3 linked regions of the Homo sapiens genome follow. The protein of the gene in region 2 interacts with the protein of the main gene of each other region in a biochemical or structural test. Each region holds a gene or a part of one and is shown on either strand. Other genes may lie near its edges.

The links. Proteins that work in one complex are often made in the same cells at the same time.
Region 1: of the proteins of ELF3 (region 2) and PRKCI, one has a biochemical effect on the other in vitro, tested with the Homo sapiens proteins (one study listed by IntAct).
Region 3: the proteins of ELF3 (region 2) and PAK1 form a complex in vitro, tested with the Homo sapiens proteins (one study listed by BioGRID).

The regions. Positions count from the first base shown.
Region 1 is NC_000003.12:170,300,924-170,306,477, reverse strand, and holds the end of PRKCI (protein kinase C iota type), read right to left. Parts: intron 3,439-5,554; coding exon 3,351-3,438; 3' UTR 501-3,350; downstream 1-500.
Region 2 is NC_000001.11:202,012,321-202,019,418, reverse strand, and holds the end of ELF3 (ETS-related transcription factor Elf-3), read right to left. Parts: intron 7,076-7,098; coding exon 6,983-7,075; intron 6,780-6,982; coding exon 6,660-6,779; intron 6,569-6,659; coding exon of another isoform or gene 6,519-6,568; exon of another isoform or gene 6,473-6,518; coding exon 6,383-6,472; intron 6,238-6,382; coding exon 6,121-6,237; intron 5,591-6,120; coding exon 5,395-5,590; intron 4,211-5,394; coding exon 4,096-4,210; 3' UTR 2,236-4,095; downstream 1-2,235. UniProt on the Homo sapiens protein: Transcriptional activator that binds and transactivates ETS sequences containing the consensus nucleotide core sequence GGA[AT]. Acts synergistically with POU2F3 to transactivate the SPRR2A promoter and with RUNX1 to transactivate the ANGPT1 promoter.
Region 3 is NC_000011.10:77,352,095-77,360,594, reverse strand, and holds part of PAK1 (serine/threonine-protein kinase PAK 1), read left to right. Parts: intron 1-1,577; coding exon 1,578-1,697; intron 1,698-4,752; coding exon 4,753-4,927; intron 4,928-6,995; coding exon 6,996-7,059; intron 7,060-8,500. UniProt on the Homo sapiens protein: Protein kinase involved in intracellular signaling pathways downstream of integrins and receptor-type kinases that plays an important role in cytoskeleton dynamics, in cell adhesion, migration, proliferation, apoptosis, mitosis, and in vesicle-mediated transport processes.

The DNA of each region.
Region 1 (5,554 bases), on a different chromosome or scaffold from region 2:
ATTCCTAATTTTTAATAATATCTACATTAATAAATATAACATTAAATATTTTTTGAGAGACAGGGTCTCACTTTGTTGCCCAAGCTGGAGTGCAGTGGCATGATCATAGTTCACTGCAGCCACAACCTCCTGGGCTCAAGCAGTCTTCCCACCTCAGCCTCCTGGGACTATAGGCACTTTGCCGGCATGCCTGGCTAATTTCTTATTTTTCTGTATGTAGAGATGGGGTCTCACTATATTGCCCAGGCTGAACTCAAACTCCTAGGGTCAAGTGATCCTCCCACCTCAGTCTCCCAAAGTGCTGTGTGAGCCACTATGTCCAGCTAAATGTAACATTATTAAATGTAAATACGACAGCATCAGTTCTACCAGAATGGTGCTTTAAGTACAGCAAAATTCCAAACTCTGAAATTTTCACTTTTTCTTGAACAAATTTTGATGCATCTTTGTTCTTATACAAATTTCTGACATACTACATATGAAAAATGATCCACTCTCAATGGGTATTATACATTTTATTTAAAGACTTCAAAGTAAAAAAAAAAAAAAAAGGTACAGAAATAGATTACATTATGATGACCACAGTAGTATTCTACATGACAAAAATAAAAACAGATTTAAGTAAATGTACCGGCACTGAACAAGCATTTACTTAACATCCAATCCAGGCTGCATATGCACAAAATGATCTGACCACATGCTTATGCAAAATAAAGTTTTTCTTAGAAAGCCAAAATTCCAACCATTCTGACTGTCCGCTGCCTATTCCCCTGTTGAGTATTTTGAGCGAACTTCTATAGAATATAAGAACAATTGGCATGGCACTTAAAGACTGCAAAAAACAGAACACAATTAAAAACATTTATAATGCATTTCTGTATAAAATACACACCGTAAATCTTATTAGTTAAAAAAAGATTTAAAAACAAAAGACCACCCTGAATAATGGTTAAAACCTCATCATAGAAAAATGCTCATCATTTTGTACACTGAAAGAAACTACTGAGAGGTTTTTTGGGGGGCTGGTGGGAAGGTAGATACCTAACTTAAAGATTCATTCAAAATTTGCTTTAAATTGTGGGTAATAACTCACTGCTTACCCCTTCTCAAAATGTTTTATCATGAATACTCTAATATTTAACCACAGGACAAACATAAAGAATAACCTGAAGAAGGTATTTCTCAAAGTGAGGTCGAAGGCCCCAAAAGAAGTCTAAGGTGGGCTCACTAGTGTGCATTTTAAACCAACTTCCTAGGTGATTATTTCACATTCCAAAATCTGAGAACTAATGCCCTATGGGAAACAGCACCACTTAAAAGCAAGGCCATAAACATATTTCTGACATGAGATACAGAATTCTAAGTTTATGATTTGAAGTGAATACTGCTTTTTGTTTTAAAACAAGTTTCAGGTGTTAAGAGAAACATATTAAATAAACATGTGGATGTATATAAACATTTTCCTTTGACGTTTTCATTGCTTTCAGACTTATGTTATTTGAAGGAAAGAGAGTATATAGCTAGAAACTTTGGAAAAATGACATTTCCAATGAAATGCAGCATCCACCCCTCCAAAAAAAGATAATTTATTAAATGCCTACAAATTTTAAAACATTTGAAATTTAAACTAGATAACTTTCCTAAAATTTTTACTAAGATTAAAAAATTTTAAGTAATTTAGATAATCATGTTTACTTTTTAAGTCCCTTTTCATTAAAAATATATTTAAAATAAACAACAGAAGGATGCTATATTTGGCACCCCTTTAAATAATAAGCTGCTGAACACTAATATCCATAAAAAATAATCCGAGGAACTCTGCCTCTGAAATGTATTCTACTATGTATTACATGTGTTATCTAGTTAATAAAAACTCACTGAAAGAGCTGATACTGTGATGTGTGTGAGTGTATGTGTGTGTCCTGAACATTTATTCATGCCTACTTTATTTTTCTGATTTCACTAAAGGGTCCAATCATATAGATAATGTGGTTTAGGGGAAGAAATGAGCATAATTAAGATACCCTACTTAAAAAATAAATACTTTTCCTGTATGCTAAATTATAAGGAAAAAATATTATACATTCTGCCTCCACTGAATACATGGAATGCTTTTACAAGTTTGGTAACAATAATGAGTGCCTCATTTGAATCAAGTCACAAAAAGCAACTGTGGGGATTCACTCTCCAATAGGAAATAAAAATATTACCAGTGTACTTTTCTGTATCTATTTTAAATTTCTGGTTTTTTTCCTTTCTATACACTGAGTAATTTTCCATTCAACTGCATCCTTGGTCTTTTGCAGTGTATATATTAACACTGCAGTTAAAGTTTCCAATAAAGGGAAAGGCTCAGGAGCTACCCTGTTAATATACTTAAAAAGAAAAACCACTTGTGCCAGTTTTGCAAAAATAGTTAATGATTTGGAATCTGATTCATAATAAAAAGTGTCTTTTTTAACTCAAGAAGAATTTCCCAATTTGGTTTTTGTTTGAGACCGAGTCTCACTCACTGTTGCCCAGGCTAATCTTGGCTCACTGCCAACTCCATCTCCTGGGTTCAAGCGATTCTCCTGTTTCAGCCTCCCGAGTAGCTGGGATTACAGGTATGTGCCACCATGCCCAGCTAATTTTTGTATTTTTAGTAGAGACAGGATTTCACCATGTTGACCAGGCCAATCTCAAACTCCTGACCTCAAGTGATCTGCCCGCCTCAACCTCCCAAAGTACTGGGATCACAGGCATTGAGTCACTGCACCCAGCCGAATTTCCCAATTCTAAGCAAGCAGCATCTTCTATTACCAATTTAATAACTGCTGCCTTAAAAAAGATCAATAATTTATTTATCCAAGGCAATAAAATTTACACCTGAATTTTTAAACATAAAGAACTCCAAAACTAATAGGTAATATAAAAAGTTGTTGCATTTTATATTAATCTTTTATTTCAAAATTAAACCCTGAAATGATTTAACACAGAATGACAAAAATTATGGGAGGTTTATGATGTAATCCCACTATGTGCCTTAATGCAACAGATACTTTTTTAATGCAGTGTTTTTTTTTTTTTTAAACAAAAAAGATAACTTCATTACTCATCTGTAGGCCTTTTAAAAACTGAAAAACCAGTTCAACTAAATTTTGACATGATTGTCTGGAAGCTAGTAGTATTAATTTTTTTTTCATAGTAAAACAGATGTAATAATTGATTCATATAGTCTACAAGAGAAGATATTGGGTGTTTTTTTGTAGGTGGCAAATATAAAATGGTTAATTGTATCCAGGCTTGCAGCAAGTTTATCCATGCATTAAATGGCAACATGAGTAGAATACATGGTTGAAAAATGAGGATCAGACACATTCTTCTGCAGACATCAAAAGAGGATTGATATACTCAAAACCTTCAAATTCAGACTGATCAATCTTCCTCACAATGTCACTGTTGAAAGAAAAATAAATTTATTTTCATCATAATCAAGATTTCTTCAACCTTTAAATGGTAAAATAAGATTAAAAATCAAGTAATTAGGCTAATTGTACTGAAAGGAAATCTATAAATTTTTAGATTAATCCCCCAGATTTTCTAGACGAATCAAGAATGGAGTACTGAAAATTTAAAAAACCCCGATAATCCCACAAGCAAGTTTAGAGCCAAAAAGGAGTTCAAAACTGAGGACTGCGAATAAAAAAGACACCAGTTGTCACCATTCCAGTTAATCTTAACTTTTGACCAGAACAACATTCCTAGTTACAGGTGAACATCCAGGTTTGAATTAGCATTCAATTTAGTAGTCACCTCAACAGCCAGATGTTAGATAGTGTAGCCCAGAAGAAGTTAGCCAAAAGGAAAAGGCAATAGGAACAAGTACACTGAGAGACCTGGAATGAGGAGAGAACACCGCAGGGAGATCATGGGTCACAGAGAGGGGAGAGGTTGGCATTTTGTTACACTGGGCTTCTACTTTAATATACAGTGAGTAGTGCTATCAAATATTTAATACATAAATGTATTATGCCATACTAAGAAGCACAAAGTTACAGAGGATACAGTCCCTTCCTTCAAGGAAGGGAGGTAATTCCTACTGGAAGAGAAAGCAGTACTTGTTAAATTTTATACACAATAAGCTAAGTCCTGTTCTAACCATGGTTCTAAAGAAAGGTGTGACTTCTAGTTGGAGAAATCAAGGAAGGCAGTATTCATTCTGCAAACACTTAATGAATGGAATGATGAAAGACTGTGGTAGGTCTTGGGAAATGCAAGTAATTAGGGTGGAGCACAGGAATAGAAGTGTGTTAGATGATGCTGAAGAAAAATAATGGCTAAATCAAAGAGGCCAGTGATGTTTACACTAAGGAGTTTCACCTTGATCCATCAAAGATCTGGTTGCATCTGAGGTGGCTCTGAAAGATGGGAAAATTTCAATAGGTAAAAATGAAGGCGGGATACACAGGAATGAACAGGCAGAAGCAGAGACAATAATACTACTAGGGAATGGTGAGTAGCTAAGACTGATCAGAACACTGTTTGTATTATGGTGAGAGGTATCGCTAGAAAGTCAGGCTGGAGCAGATGTGGGGAGGCCTTAAATGCTAGCCAAGAGGATAGATGTTACCTGATAGGCAATGAAGGAGTTACTGAAGGTTTCTAATTAAAGGGGTTCAAGAATTGGAGTGGTACTTCACAAGGCATACAGAATAGGTTGCAAAGTGAAGGAGTAAAGATCAATTAGGAGGCTGATACAATACTCTGGGTATGACTTGAATGAGGCCTGAACTAGGGTGTGTCAACGGGAAGAGAAAAGAAAGATCTGATGTAAATGATGAAATAATGAAAACACAGACAAAGACTTGGCAGCTGCAGGTATTATGTAATCTGTTAAGAAAAAGGAGGAGTCCACAATCACTGACATCTGGAATCTGAACAACAGGGACACACCGTGAGCAGAATTAGGTAACTAAAAAAAAAGGAACTGATTGAGAACAATAGAAAGAGATCATAAAGGGTCATTACTTTCATTTTAGACTTCATATATTTGAGCTGCTTGGCTGACAAACTGGGGGCCGTGTTAAACAGAAATGCAGCTCAGGAGATCTAACGGCAGGGGATAAGTGCTTCAGAAACCATCATGCATTTATTCTTCACAGCAACCTTATGAGGTAGGCAATTTGAGAACAGGCTCAGAGAAGTTATGCAATTCCTATCCAAGGTTACCCAGTTGGTAAGAGGTGGCATCGGGATTCAAACTCCTATCTTTTGATTAAATCCAGTGTTCCTTCTAATACACAATGCTGTCAGAAATAATGACTTGGTACACATCTTTCTCCTCTAGTAGACAGCACGCTTTTGGGGAGATCAGACTGTCTTGATTGTCTTTGAATGTCTAGTATTTACCATAACACCTTTTGCTCAATAACCATTTGCCATTTAACTGAGAGCCATTTAATTAGCTGGTATCTATGCTACAGGGCTGGCTGAAATCTCCAAGGTACAAACTGCATATAGCAAAAAGAAGGCTGTCATGAACAGAACCATGGAGCATCCTGGTCTCAAGGGG
Region 2 (7,098 bases):
GGCATGAGCCACTGCGCCCAGCCTAATAATTCTTTAACAAGGGCCCAGGCTTTCACTTTGCACTGGGCTCTGCAAATTACCAGGCCTGTCCTGACTGGAGGCAAGGGCTGAACCCATCTGGTGGGGGAAAAGGGCCAAAGAGGAGGTCAGGAAATGCTTCATAGAAGGACCCCGAGGGAGGAGGTGAGTCGTGCAGGCAGGCCTGGGTGTGGCTATGTGAGACTGTGAGGTGGGAGTGTGTTGCGTGCGCTGGTGTGTGCAAGTGTGTGAGGTTGTGAATACGGTCCATGCGAGTGTGTGAGAGCAGGCAGCGTCTGCAGTGCGTGCAGGGGCATGTGAGTGAGGGCTTGTGAATATTTATCTTTGTGAGTGTGAGTGTGTGTGACTTTGGTTCCCATGAGTGTGTATGAATGTGTGTGGTGTGTGGGGGAGGTAGTGGCCAGGGCAGGGAGAGTCACGGGGCCATTTAGCAAATATTTATCGAGCACCTCCTCTGTGCCAGGCGCTGTGCAAGGTGCTGAGGTGAGTAAGCCCCAGCACTTGCCCAGAGGTGCTCACAGCCCGGCGAGAGAGAGAGATGTGTAAACAGACAACAGCAGAGAGAGAGAGCAGATTGAAACCAGACTCCTCAGAAATGCAACCCCTTCACCCACTTCCCCCAGGAGAAGCCAGACTTCCCCAGAATTGGTGGGACAGGTGGGGCTGTGGGATAAGCCAGGAACTGTCCCAGGGGGCCAACCCCAGCCCCTCCTCAGGCACACCCAAACACGACGGGAGGGGTGACCTCCCTCTGACCTGCTCAGCGACACACCCAATCCCACAGAAGCAGATAAGAGGTGACCAGCAGCTCCGGCAGGGCGGGATATAAACAGCCCGGCCCTGTGGCTTCCTCCCCACCCCCACTCCCCAGCCCAGGACACACCTGAGGGGATGCAGACTCTGGTGGGCGAGAGACCGGGCCGTCTCCTGCTAGGAGGCCCCTGGGCTGGTGAGAGTCGGGGTAAGGGTGACTGGTGCCCGACAGAGAGGGCAGCACGGAGGCCAGCCCAGGGGCCCGTGCCAGGACTCTGCAGCATCCTGAGGGGTGAGAGGGCAGAGAACTGTTGGGGAGAAAGGCGTCCCTCCCAGAGCTGCCGTCTTCCAGGCTGTCCCAGGCGCTGCCCTGCAGAGGCCACCTGCCCAGGTGGTCTCACTGAGCTGCAGCGTGGAGGCAGGCATGCTGTGAGCTGGCCCCGCTCTCACCCAGTCAGTGACTTCAGCCCACCACTAGCCTTGTCAGTAAAATGGGGACACCTGGTCTCCTCAGCGAGCTGTGGGGCGGATCAAATGAGATAATGGGATGAGGAAAGCGCCTCATAAACTGCAAATGGCAGGGCAAAGGTCAGCACGCAGCGGGCAGCACCTGCCCCCAGCCCTCCAGAAGAGGGTGAAGGGGCTGAGCGCCATATTCCCAGCCCTCCTCCCTGCTAGGATCTCCTTTAGAAGCTGAAGAGGCTGGGAGTCAAGGGAGGCTGAACAAGCATGTCCCGGGCTCTAGAGGCCCCTCCCCCACTTCTTGGCTAGGTGACTTCAGGCCACACTGGGTCACCTCTCTTCTTTTTTTTGAGACAGAGTCTCCCTGTGTCACCAGGCTGGAGTGCAGTGGCATGATCTTAGCTCACTGCAACCTCCGCCTCCTGGGTTCAAGTGATTCTCCTGCCTCAGCCTCCTGAGTAGCTCGGACTACAGGCGCGTGCCAGCATGCCCAGCTAATTTTTGTATGTTTAGTAGAGACGGGGTTTCACCGTGTTGGCCATGATGGCCTCGATCTTCTGACCTCGTGATCCTCCCGCCTTGGCTTCCCAAAGTACGAGGATTACAGGCGTGAACTACCGCGCCCAGCTGGGTCACCTCTTTTAAGGGTGCAAGGACCCCGAGATATTGTGGCTAGGGAAACTAGACCAGAGTCTAATGCATAATTTCCAAGAAATGGGGTCATTTTTAGACTAAGTAGCTGTGAAAGCTTCCCCAGCTTCTGAGGCTAGACCTACGCCCTGGCCCGCATCCCCTTTGTCTAACTGGCTCACACTTCAGAAGGGAAATGTAAGTAAAAGCCTTTTTCCAAATGGCTCCAGGATTCTGGTTTCTCTCATGACCTCACTTTCCTCTCCAATCAACTTCCCCACTCTCCTTTTCCACCATTCCTTGCTTCTCCAGAGCAAGCTGCATTTCCAGAAATCCACACACAAGCTTTAGTTTTTCTAAGATCCCTTCTTTATCCACATCACTTCAGCCAACAATCTGATTGGTATTTCCAAGACAACAGAGCAGTATTTCAAACTCATGAATGGGATTTTAATGTGCTGTATGGAATTTGAAGCCTCAAACTTAAGGAACTTTCCACCTGGAAAGCATTCTTAAGTAACATCAATGAACTGTCCTCCCTAAAACCTAGACACAGTATCACTGTGGAAACAGAGTAATAGTTCTGGAATCGATTGAGGATTAGGTTAGAAGCGCCCACACCAGGAAAAGCTTCCGGGAAACGGTTTTAGGACAGAATCAAGGCACACCTGTGGAACCTCTTTCTGCATCTGTCAAATGGGGACGCTGTGTCTCCTCTCTTCTTAGGAGAGGATTAAATGAGCCAGAGTGGGCTAGCACAGTGCCTGGCATGAGACTACAGTTTCACTGGGTGCTATACTCACTACCTGGGTGACAGGATCATTCGCATCCCAAGCTCAGCATCACACAATATACCCATGTAACAAACCTGCGCACGACCTCCTAAATCTAAAGTAAAAGTTGCAATTAAAAAAAAAAGAGAAAAAGACTACACTTTCAACAAATGCCAACTCCTTCCCTCATTCTTTCTCAGCAAGTACTCATCTCCATTTTGTTTTGTTTTTTTTTTTTTTTCCTTTACAAGATCCTAACTCTGATTTTGTCAGACTCAAAAGCTGGGATTCATATTACAGATATACAGTTTACAGCACACTTGGCTGGAATGCAAAACCATCTATTCCACAAGGCCAGCCATGCAATTCTAGACATCTTGAGAACATCAGGTCCAAACCCTAGCCTAATAGGAAAAATCAGTCCTAAACAGGACAGACTTGGTCAAGGTCAAGGTCACTCGAGCGGTGTCATGACAGCAGGATGCTTCTGACCTCAGTGTTCTGAGTTCATGTCCTTGCTTGCATGAAGTCTTGTAAGCGTTCTCCAACAGTCTCAGCTGCTTCCTTTGCTCGCCTCCCAGCCCAGTCCATGTGTCTGTAAGCCCACACCTGCTACAGGAAATCTGTAACTCCCCTCTTCGTCAGCCTTTGCCCTCACCCTCAGCCTGGTAGACCTTCATTTTCCTCCCCTCCAACCTCTTGACCATATTCGATCCAAAGGCCCAAATTTCAGTACACAGGTAGCTAAGACAAAGGTTAGAAAAAGCCCAGAAGGCACTTTATTGGAGGTCTCTGCCTCCATTCACAGGAGAAAGGAGCTGGGAGCCCCATCCTAAGGGTCCCAGCATCAGCCCACTGGAGGGCCTGGAACAGTCCAGCACTCTGTGGGAGAGGAGTGGGGAGGGGAATGTTTTAGAAAAAATAGATCTCTATGTACATCTGACATATTTATATAGCACATAAATTAGGGAGTGCTCTGACCCCTGCCCGTGGAGCCCAAGCACTGAGCAGGGAGGTGAACGCCAGTCCAGAAAGAAGGTGCTGGAGCCCCTGCTCTGTCCTCTCCATCACGGTGCTCCCCTAGGGCCTCCCCAGGCCTCCTTGGCTCAGTCCAGGTGTCTGCAGGAGGAAGGTGTTGTCTGCATTTAGTGTCTGAGACTGGGTTTGAGGAGGCACCAGATAAAAGGAGATACACTTGCAGCTATAAAGTCAGCTTCAAACCCCAGGGCTTGTAATTCCAAGAGGAGGGTGGGGAGGCGAGGCCATAGTCTCCGAGTCCCAGGACGATGGCTGACAATACACCAAAACATCAGCTTCTCTCCACAGCACAGCTGGGAGCATTCCCCAGTGGAGGGGCCATCTGGCCTGCCTGTCCTCCCAGGAAGGTTTGCAGGCCTCGAGTGGTCCGTGAGTTTGGTCCCGGGTATAGTTCCAACCCTCAGTTCCGACTCTGGAGAACCTCTTCCTCCTTCCAGCCGCTTGAGTTTTTGCCAAACTTGTAGACGAGTCGCCGGCCATCCACCCGTTCCAGGATCTCCCGTTTGTAGTAGTACCTGGGTGAAGAGAAGGATGGTCAGAGGTGCTTTGGCAGGAAATGGGCCCCAGGCTGCCAGCCCGCCCACCTGGCCCGCGTTACCCCCAGGTAACCCATGCCCACTGGTCTCTGCCTGACTAAGCTGAGCCTGACTCACACTTCCTAAACTCCTCTGTTCTTCACACTGGCAAGCAGAAGCTCTTTCCCTACACTGGCCTGTAACCGTGCCCAGGACACAGGGCTCTTTGCCTTTGCTTCTTTGTATCCTATGGCTGTGACTGGGGTCTGATCATTAAATTACATGACTTTTAAGGCCAGGGAGCTGGGCACGGTGGCTCACACCTGTAATTCCAGCACTTTGGGAGGCTGAGGCGGGCGGATCACTTGAGGTCAGGAGTTCGAGACCAGCCTAGCCAACATGGTGAAACCCCCGTCTCTACTAAAAATACAAAAATTAGCTGGGCATGGTGGCAGGTGCCTGTAATCCCAGCTACTTGGAGGCTGAGGCACAAGAATCACTTGAACCCGGCAGGCAGAGGTTGTAGCGAGCCAAGATTGTGCCACTGCACTCTAGCCTGGGTGACAGAGCGAGACCCTGTCTCGAAAAATAAAAAGAAGAAGAAGAAAAAAGAAAAGGCCAAGCATACTGGCTCACACCTGTAATCCCAGCACTTTGAGAGGCCGAGGCAGGAGAGTCATTTGAGGCCAGGAGTTTGAGACCGGCCTGGCCAACGTAGAGACCCTTGCCTCTATTTAAAAAAGAAAAAGAAAAAAAAAGTAAGTACATGATTTTAGGGCTGGACGGGATCTTAAGATGATCTAGTGTACTCCTGGACACAGGAGGAAACTGAGGCCCAGAGAAAAACAACCTAAGTGCTTCAACGAGGAGAAAGCCAGGCCCTGGGTGGGCACGGCTCCTGCCCCCTTTCCCACTCTCCAGGTGCCTTCCTGAGGACAAGCCTCACAGGCGATACAAGAAATGTTGCTGCTAGCTCAAGTGCACTGTGTCTGCTGTCTGCCAGGCTAATACTTTCTCCATGTTGTCATTTAATCCATGAAGTAGACCAACCCAGATGTTGTCCTCACTCTAAGGACTCAGCCCTGTTGCAAGAAGCCAAGTGGCAGCCAGAAAGAGGGCGGTGGGAGTGTGAGCGCCTGTCCCCATGTCCGGCTGTATCGTGAGGGTCCTGGCCGCCAGCTCACCTCATGGCCCGGCTCAGCTTCTCGTAGGTCATGTTGCTGTTCTTTTTCTTTTGGCCCCATAGTTGGGCCACAGCCTCGGAGCGCAGGAACTTGAAGACGCCTTCATGCCGATTCTCCCACTTCATGAGGCCCTCGTTGAGCTCCGGGTGGATGAGGATGTCCCGGATGAACTCCCACAGGTGGGTGCCTCTGGGCGCTGCAAGGCCAGCCTCCATCAGTTTGCCATCCAGGTGTCCCCTCTCACCCAAGGCCAGCCAGCCCTGCCCGCCCCAGTGCACTGCTGACTTGGCCACAGCATGCAGCAAGCCTCTCCAGAGACCCCGCAGTGCCCTCTGTGCGGGTACTGCAGTGACTGCTTTTCTCCTCAGCCCACCTAAGACCCACCAGCTGCCTCCTCACATTGAGGGTGTCCCAGAGGGCAGGACAGTGGCCAAGTGCAGAGAGAACTGGAGTCAGTGGACAGGACACTGGAGTCAGTGGACAGGACTCTGGTACCATGAGCCTCCCACTGGGAGCCTTATTTCCTCCTCCTCTCCAGGACCACCAAGCCAGGCTCTGCAATTAGGTGGTGACCGATACCATAGAGCCCCCAGCTTGTGCACAGCCTTACCAAAGGCCATGCGGAGGCCAGAGAAAACGGGAGAAGGGATACCTGCAACAACCCGCAGTGCCCCAGGAAGCCGCTCAGCCCGGCGCAGGGAGGACCCACGTGCCCCCGGAGCTCACCGTGCTTGCTCTTCTTGCCCTCGAGACAGTCCCAGTACTCTTTGCTCAGCTTTCGGGGCCGGCCTCGTTTCCGCTTCCCGTGCTTGGGATCCCCCTTCTTGCAGTCACGAAAACCATCTGTGGGGACGGTGGTGGAAGGTCAAGGAGGGGCAAGAGGGGAGTTAGGGAGAGTAGCCCCTCTACAGGAAAAGGCTGCAGGAAGAGCCGGGCCCCCTGTGCATTGCTAAATGGGACGCCCTCTTGGGGACCTCCCTCGACTCACCGCTGGGGAAGAGCTTGCCATCAGTGGGATCCAGGTCCACGTCACTTCCACCGGAGTCTGAGGAGTGGGAGCTCCGAGAAGCACCAGTCCCTGGGGGGCGGGGTCAGAGTAAGTCCCCTGCCGGCCCACCCTCTGCTCAACCACGCTGCTGGCTCTCAGGACACACTTCCCAGCCTGTTCCTGTTCCTGCCAGAAGGCCTGAGTTATGGTGCTGGGAGCCAGAGGGAACAAGGGACACTTCGGGGAAGGGAGGTTGTGGCCCAGAGAGAGCTCTCACCTGCGGTGGAGACGTCAGAGCTGCCAGGGGAGGGGGCTCCTGCGCCACAGCTGCCGGGGTGGTAGGGGCTGGCTTGCTGACCGTCGTCCAGCAGCTCCTGGGCAAAGGGGCTGCCCTGGTCTGGGAAGAGGAGGTGAGAACTCAGAGAGGGCTCAGGGGACCAGACCAGGACAGGTGATGCTGCCCATGGGTCTGATGACCTGCTGCAATTTTTCTAATTGAGGGAGGAAGAAGTCTGGGGAGGGGGTCATCTCTAGCACTCTGTGGAGGGGCAGGGATGGGACAAGACAGGCTGGGGAAGGAAGGAGAAAACGGGTTCTCACCAAAGGGCCCTGGGTCTAGGGCCTCCTGGAAGGCCATGCCATCCTTCTCCAGCAGCTCAATGATCCAACTGAGCTCATCAGAAGAGCTGGAAGCTGACAAGGAAGGAAGGAAGGGT
Region 3 (8,500 bases), on a different chromosome or scaffold from region 2:
TACAGTATACATCAGGGGAGCTCCAGGGCTACCTGATGATGAAGAGCCTTGCTGAGTCAACTGTATTCCCACATTAGGTTTTTAGTTAAATTTTGTTGAGTGGAATAGTGGGGAGAAAATAAATTAGAGCAGAAAAATATCGAAATACATATTTTGACAGGGAAAGGACCTCTATTGAGTTTTGGAACTTAAAGCGATTTAAGGTCATCTTTCAAATTATAACACTCCTCTTCCTTCACATTCCTCAGGTGATTAAACTTCAAACCAAGAGGACAGATTTATTGCCTATGGTCACCACAACTGCTTATATATGCCCGGCACTGTCAGTTTTTAACTTATGCTTTGTGCTGGAGGCCCTGTTAAAATCTATGCCAGTTTTTCTTACTTTAGTATGTCAAATGTGGTAAAAGACAGTCTCCCACAGTCAGTACCTCTAGTATATTATTCCTTAGTTCTTCCATTTATCCCGTTATTCTGACTCTGGACCTTCCTCTTAGGAGGCTCCAGGTGTCAGGCAGGAGGGGCTCTCATCCTGTCTATCTCCTATACCAGATGGTCACTACTTTAGGACATGGACCATCTTTTTCATCTTTGTACATTTATGTCAACAGTACCTATCACAGTCTTACTGAGCACAAAGTAGGTGCTCTGAAAATACCTGAAACTGTTGAATTATATCAGTATATATTAAAAGATCCCCATTGCCTCTCCAGTTCTTTGCTGATCAAATGATAGAATCATTTGGTATCTATCAAAAATCTCATATTTTGGAGGCATTTTGTCTCTTAATTCTGTGTAATAAACAGTAATGGTATGCTATTTTTGCCTGGACCTGCCCTAAAACCTGCCACTCTTGGCCCAGCTCTCTTATAGTTTGCATGGGGAAATCAGGTTGTCACAGATTGTAAGCAGATCTAATTAGTGGTAAGTTCCATTCCAGGGTAGGGCAGAAACTTAGGGAAATAGTATCCAGTCTGGGGAGAAATTCATTGTTCTCTTTAGATAACATGATCCTGATGCTGATGTTCTTTATCTTCAGGTTGAGGTGAGGACCCCTGGTAATGTAATGGGTTCAGGAGATTTTTGCAAAGAGAGGAAAAGGGCAGGGCAAAAGCCTGTTTAGACTGCCATTTACCATATCAGGAGAGAGTAAGAAATTATAGTGATGAATTTTGAAAAATTAGAAACTTTTGATCTCTTCCCTACATTTCATACTTTATTTCCTGTTCAGTGTGGAGAGAAAAATTCATAGAATAAGAAGGTACTGTGAGCTTGTCTTCAGGGGTTGGGTTGGGGGAGAGGCAGGTAGAAAAGCTGTAAGCTAGCTTCCCATTCACAGCTAGGCTTTGAGTGGGAGAAGGAAGCCCCAAGGGACTGAGTGGATAGTGATGGCTAAAAGAAGAGGGAGAAACAGATTGAGCTTCTGAGACTAGCTACACAAAGGTGAGAGCTTGGAGGCTAATGTGTATTTCAGAAGGGATATCAGGATGGGGTTTCTCGTGGGAGGTTTGGTGATCCTGATAGTTAAGTTCCATGGCAGCTGGACCAGATGCATCTTGCTTTTCTTCTTTGCACAGAATGTGAAGGCTGTGTCTGAGACTCCTGCAGTGCCACCAGTTTCAGAAGATGAGGATGATGATGATGATGATGCTACCCCACCACCAGTGATTGCTCCACGCCCAGAGCACACAAAATCTGTGAGTCTTTGGGGACCTGGCCAGTTTTGTGATTTATTAGAGTAAGTGGGGAGAGGGAGGAGTTGGTGCTGATACCTAGAAGTTTAATATTCTGGTAGGCGTCCTTAGATTTTGGAGCTGGTGAAATCACTGAACTACCTTGACTAAAGGTACTTTCTGTATGATTAAAGACAAAAAATCATGTGTTTATTTATCATTGGTTTGCAGATAGTCCCAAAGTGTCCTAGGTAATTGATGTTTATACCAGTCCAGTCTCGGTTCTCCACAGATAGGACAGGAAGATATATAGGATTGATGCTACTTAGTGCAGGACTAACATAAATTATTCCAGTCTCCAGGGAAGCAACAAATTGTCTTGCTACAGATCTTTTCTTCTCTGTTAAATGTGCAGTGTTCAGCCTCTTAGAGCATTATTGATAATATTGAAAGACCCAAGAGAATATATAAATACATTAGTGCTATTAATATGCTGGGCATCAGGAGTGCATTTTGATGCCGGATGTTGGCAGTGATTTCTATTTAACTTCCTTTGAGGTTCCTGCATCTCTGAGAATAGCCATGGTCCCTCTAACCTTGCTTTGAAACATCTAGTCCCTGTGCCTTTTACTTAATTTGGCATCACTGAGCACTGACCTACCATCAGATGATACTCTACTAGTGTTTCTTTGTTTAGGTCTTTTACTAAGATGAGAGCTCCATAATGAAGGAACCATCTAGCACTTCTGTGATCATGAAAGAAAAAAAAAAGGGCTACCTCTGGAATACAGCATTCAGGGAGGTGTTCAAACAGAAATTGGTTGAATGACTATTGGAGATGCTGTGGAGGAAATTCAAAGGAATTATATGACCTATTAGGATGAGAACTTACAAACAGAATCTGTGGAATCATCTCTGTAGGTCACAAAGTTACCTCAAGGGAAAATGCGCTTCAAAATTGGAGAGTCGTTAACACTGATATGGTTTTTTTTGGTTTGTAGACATGTTCATTTAAAACATTTTTTTCCCCACTAAACCATGAACACCTCAAAAAGTAGAGGAAATCCATATGTATGTATTTCTAGTGCTTAACATAGTTCTTGGCACCTGCAGAGGTGGGTAAATATCAGAGGACAGTAAATATTGAATTAATTAATTAATTGATCTTCATAGCATTTCTTTCTAAAAAGGTATTGGTAATTCCTAATTTATAGAAGAAGCAGCTGAGATTTGGAGAGGTGAATTGATCTGCCCAGTCTCTTAGTAAACAAAAGAGCCAGGATTTGAAAGCAGGTAATTAACCCCAACTCCAGGTTGTTTTCCACCATAGCACAGTGGTATTTTTGTGTGTACAAACCTGTGCTAGGAGCCAGAGAAGGAGACTATTAAAGAAGGAAAAGGCAAGGTTTCTGTCTTCAAAGAGATATATCAGGACAGGCAAAAGAGGACAAGGCATGGAAGTACAGGTTTAGGTGCCTGGGATATAGTTTGTCTACAGGTACAAGAATAGAAAATTGAGAAATCATTATGCTAGAGTAGTAATCAGGAAGGAAGCCATTGCCTCTGATCTCAGCGTCTTGGCTTATTGCTGTTCCCACTACTGGAATGTTCTCTCCCATTTCCACCTATTAAAAGCCTGTCCAGTCAAAAGGTAGCATGGTCAAGCAGTCCAAGGTGCAGGATGTAGTTGGCTTTAGTCTCTGTGGAGCCATGGGTTTGAGTCCCACTGTTGCCAATGGCTTTGCATCATCGCAGATAAATGATCATCATAGATAAATGATCCTCTATCTTTGTAGAAACCTATCCGTCCTTCAGGATCCAGTTGCAGGATCCTGTTTGTTTATTTATTCCATCAAATATTTACCTGAATGCTTGCTTTCTTTTAGTAAGTGGTTAGATGGAGGAACTCACGGATGAATGACCCACATTCCCTGTCCTTATACTGTTTATGGACTATGCAAAAGATAATTGTGATATTTTTATGATAAAATCTGTTAAATACCTTGAAGCATCTCCTGGGGAAAGGAAGTATAATTTATGATCACTTCTGAACCTCAGTAGTATATAGCTTGCTTATTTCTTTATAACATGTATCACTTTCTGCCTTGTAGTTATGATTTTCTCACCTCCTTTATAAGAATGAGAGGTTGGGGCAGCATTTTGTACAGGGTGAGGCAACAAATAGATTCTCAGTAAATGTTTGTTATGTAAATGAATGAATAGGACATTTAATATTTTTAAAAGGTAAAATTTGAGTGCTTAATGTCTGCTGGGGATGAGTCTGATTACCTCACATATTAATCAGTTTACTCCTACAGCAACCCCAAAAGATAGTTATCATTATTATCACCATTTTATAGATGAGGAAACTGAAACACAGAGAAGTTAAGTAACCTGCCCAAAGTCATGCAGAAGGTAAGAATAATAAGAGTTGGGATTTAAGTTCAGGCAGTCAGGTTCCAGAGTCCATGTTCTAAATCATCACACTCTACTACCTCTTGATGAAGAACAAAAGTAGTTCCTTCCCTGCAAGGGTTCAGGATGTAAGGAGGGAGTAACTCAATAGAAGTTGGTGTTGTACTAGTAATGCAAAGTGCTATTTGCATTACTACAGGATATGTCTTTTAACTTGGGGAAGCATAAAATATTACAAATGAAGGGGATTCTTACCTAATAGAATTGTCTTCAACTAATTTCTTTTGTTACAGAATATTTCTTTTAGCTTGGGGAATACAGGATATTTCTTTTAGCTTGGGGAAGCATAAAATATTACAGATGAAGGGGATTCTTATCTAATAGAATTGTCTTTAACTAATTTCTTTTGATAGTTGTCTAGCCTCTATTGAATATCTTTAGTGCTGAGACTCTCACTTCTTTTGTTTACAGTGAGAGTAAGGAAGGCCATTTTACCCAGAATGGGTGGGCCTGGGCACAGAGGAGGAGTAATATAGATTTTGACATAAGAGAAAGGATGAGTTTATTGGGGTTTGCTCTGTGGATGTTCTAACCTCACATCTAGGAGAGGTTCCCCTATGCTAACAAAGGCTGGTCTTGCCAAAATTTTGCACTAATAATGCAGGTATACACACGGTCTGTGATTGAACCACTTCCTGTCACTCCAACTCGGGACGTGGCTACATCTCCCATTTCACCTACTGAAAATAACACCACTCCACCAGATGCTTTGACCCGGAATACTGAGAAGCAGAAGAAGAAGCCTAAAATGTCTGATGAGGAGATCTTGGAGAAATTACGTAAGGAATTTGTAGCTTTCTGAACCTTTCTTCGTTTTATGACTGGTCAAGCACAGAGATTTGCTGGTCGTAGGCTTGGTCCATGCAGCTGGCTGGCCATGCTTGGTACCTTAGGCACAGACTGCTTCTCCTCACCCTGCCCCTGAACCTCCCTTCCCTGTCTCACAGCCCTGGTTGGATACTATGTTAGGATGGAGATGTGGTGAGAGTGTGGATAGCTTACTTTGAGGGCAGGGCATCCCTCACCCCTAGGCATGTATTATAGCGAAGACAAATAGTTTTTCTCTAATGAATAGCCTAGAATGCCATGTTGAGAAAGACTGAGGACCTAGTGGAAAAGGGCACTGTGATCAATTATTGATGTTTTGCCATTGACCTAGGAGAAGACGCATCTGCCATCTTGGTTGTAGGAAAAGAGGGAAGGGAAGTTAACATTTTATGAACCTATAGTATGTATCAAATGACAAGCAAAATATTTTCTTGATTTTTTTTAAATTTAATTCTCTTATTAACCCTGTGAAGAAAAGCATTATGATCCTAATTTTTGCAATGAAGATATCTGAGGCTCAGGGAGGCTAAATATCCTGCCCAAAATCACGCAGCTAAAAAGTGACATGGCTGAGGTTAGAACACAGTTTTTGTTCCTGTAAGTAGAGCATACTGCCTCTTGCTGTCAAGTGGAAACTTCCATTTTACTTTCTTTAGCTGCCAGAAATGGGGGTATGTTAGGGTAGCTTATTTCTGTGTTTCAGTAAACTGCAGAAGAATTCATGTTAGAAGGAAGAACTAGGTTGATCTGTGGGCTTGGAAGAATCATTTGACAAGGGCTTTAATTTATTCACTGTATCTACTTACTTCCAAAAAGGATTTGATGTGACCGATTTGGCGACGTCTGCAAACTGGCATTGCTTTGTGGTTCTCTAGTTCTTCCTGATTAATTCCTATATGACTTTAAAACAAATTTTCACTGTTTTAAAAATTGCCCTTTTCTGGATCCCTCATAAAATGACAAAGTAAGAAAAGCCACTTACCTAGTCATCTGTTTACTCCTGTATGTAGTCTTGTTCTCTAAACCAGAGTTTTTTGTTTTGTTTTGTTTTAACAATAACACTTAGAATTATGACTTAGAATTAAGACTTGGCCTGGGAGTTAGGACACTTGAGTTGAAGCTTCTGCTCAGCCACTGACTTGTGTCTTAGGCAATTTTCTACTGTTCTCTAAACCTCATTTTTCTCATTTTTAAAATAGGGATGTTAATACTTGTCTCATTTGCAAATCAAATGAGGTAATATATGTGAAAAGTACCAATTCCTAGTAATTGGGTATTAATGGAGAGCACATTGGACCGGGAGACTAAAAATGAAACTCCTAATCTTAGCTCTGACACCAATTTGCTGTGTGACCTTGGGGGGGAAGTATCTTCTTCCCTTCTGTGGGCCTCAATTTCTCCATCTCTAAAATACAAGTTATAAAACCCAGTGGAAAACCTCTATGTCGTTGCACTTGAAATATTCTTTGTTGTAAACCTCTTCTCTACTTTATCTCTCTGGCTTTTACTTAAAGTGGAAATCAGTCCATATATCACCTTTCTGAAGTTTTTCCAGTCTTTTTTTTGTGTGTGTGTGCCTCTTTCTGTACCCCTTTGGCTTTTATCACAGCAATTATTATATTTTCATGGAACTTTATGCTTACTTATCTGTCTCCTCCATGAAATTGACCTTCTTGAGAGCAGGGACTGCCTTGACTGTGTCATATCTCTTCATTCCTAACACAACATATGGCTTGGTGCGTATTAAATGAGTAAATATTTACTGAATGGATTAATTAAAAAATGAATGACTTTTAGGAGTTTAGAAATGGAATAGCTTACTATGAATCAAAGCAGTCAAGGTGATGAAACTTTTGGTTGAGACTTATGGGGGAAAAGCTGAGGGCCTGTTTAGCATGCTTTTTGGCTATTGGAGGTAGTTCTTTAACCCTTGCCAGCTACAGGGGTTGGGGAAATGTGGAACCTTTTTTGTATCTTGATTTGGGAAAAAATGATTCATGGTCTCTGTTTCTTTCAAAGGAAGCATAGTGAGTGTGGGCGATCCTAAGAAGAAATATACACGGTTTGAGAAGATTGGACAAGGGTTAGTAGGGGCATTTTCTTTCCCTGGAGAAATGACTTTAAAGTGTGTGTGCCGGCATATATGATTTTGCTTTTTTTTTGCCTCTCATAAACCTTGTTCTTCTTTCTCCACTTTACCCCTCACCCATCTGGAGTTGTTATGTGAGACTGACTTGAGATTTGGCAGAATTATGCTTAATATGAGAGAGATGCCATTAGCTGACCATGTTGCTAAAAATACCCCTGCAGTGACAGTGAGAGAACGGTTTTTTTTCTTAGCACAAAACCAACTTCCCAAATTACAACTCTGCTTTTCCGGATGAACCCTGTTTGTCCTAGTGCTGAGATCCACCAGCACTAATATAAAATGGAAGACCCAAAACTATAAATCCTTCTACTACTGTGATAGGACCTGTTTTTCTAGGTAGATGCCAGAATTTATCCTTCTTGCATTCATCCTTCTCTGTATCTTATATGCTGCCCTCAGTGTAATGAATTCAGCAAGTCTTAACTGAGTTCCTATTGTGTGCAAGGCACTATGAATTCAGAGACAATCTCTGCTTCCAAGGACCTCAAGTCAACAGAAAAAGATAGGCAAACAATTGTATAGTCATATGTTGCCTAACAAAGGGGATATGTTCTGAGAAGTGCATCCTTAGGCAGTTTTGTCATGTGAGCGTCATAGAGTGAACACAAAACTAAATAGTATAGCCTACTACACACCTAGGCTATATGGTATAGCCTCTTGCTCCTAGGCTACAAGCCTGTACAGCATGTTACTGTACTGAATACTGTAGGCAATTATAACACAATGGTGGTTGTATATCTAAACATAGAAAAGATACGGTAAAAATACAGCATAAAAGATAAAAAAAAGGTATATTTATGTAGGGCACTTAACATGGATGGAGCTTGTAGGACTGGAAGTTGCTCTAGGTGAGTCAGTGAGTGGTGAGTGAATGTCGAGGCCTAGGACATTACTGTGTACGCTACTGTAGACTTTATAAACCCTGTACACTTAGACTGTACATTTATTAAAAAACAAAGTAATTGTGCTATGACGTTACAACTGCTACAGTGTTACTGGGTGATAGGAATTTTTCAGCTCCATCATAATCTTATGGGACCACCATCATATGCGGTCCATCGTTGACTGAAACGTCGTTATGTGACACATGACTGTCTTGTGTTTTTAAAGTGTTTGGCTGTTATTTTGAGTGAAAGAAGCTAGATATGAAAAAGCAGATACTGTCTCATTTGATTTATATGAAATTCAAGAACAGGCAAAAGTAATATATGATAATAGAAGTCAGAATAGTGGTTATTTCTGGGAGGAGGATGTAGAGTGGGAATAGGCATGAAGGAATCTTCGGGGGTAATGACTGTAGTGTCTTTTGAAAGTGGCCATTATTTTGAGTGAAAAAAGCCAGATATAAAAGAGCAGATACTATGTCATTCTATTT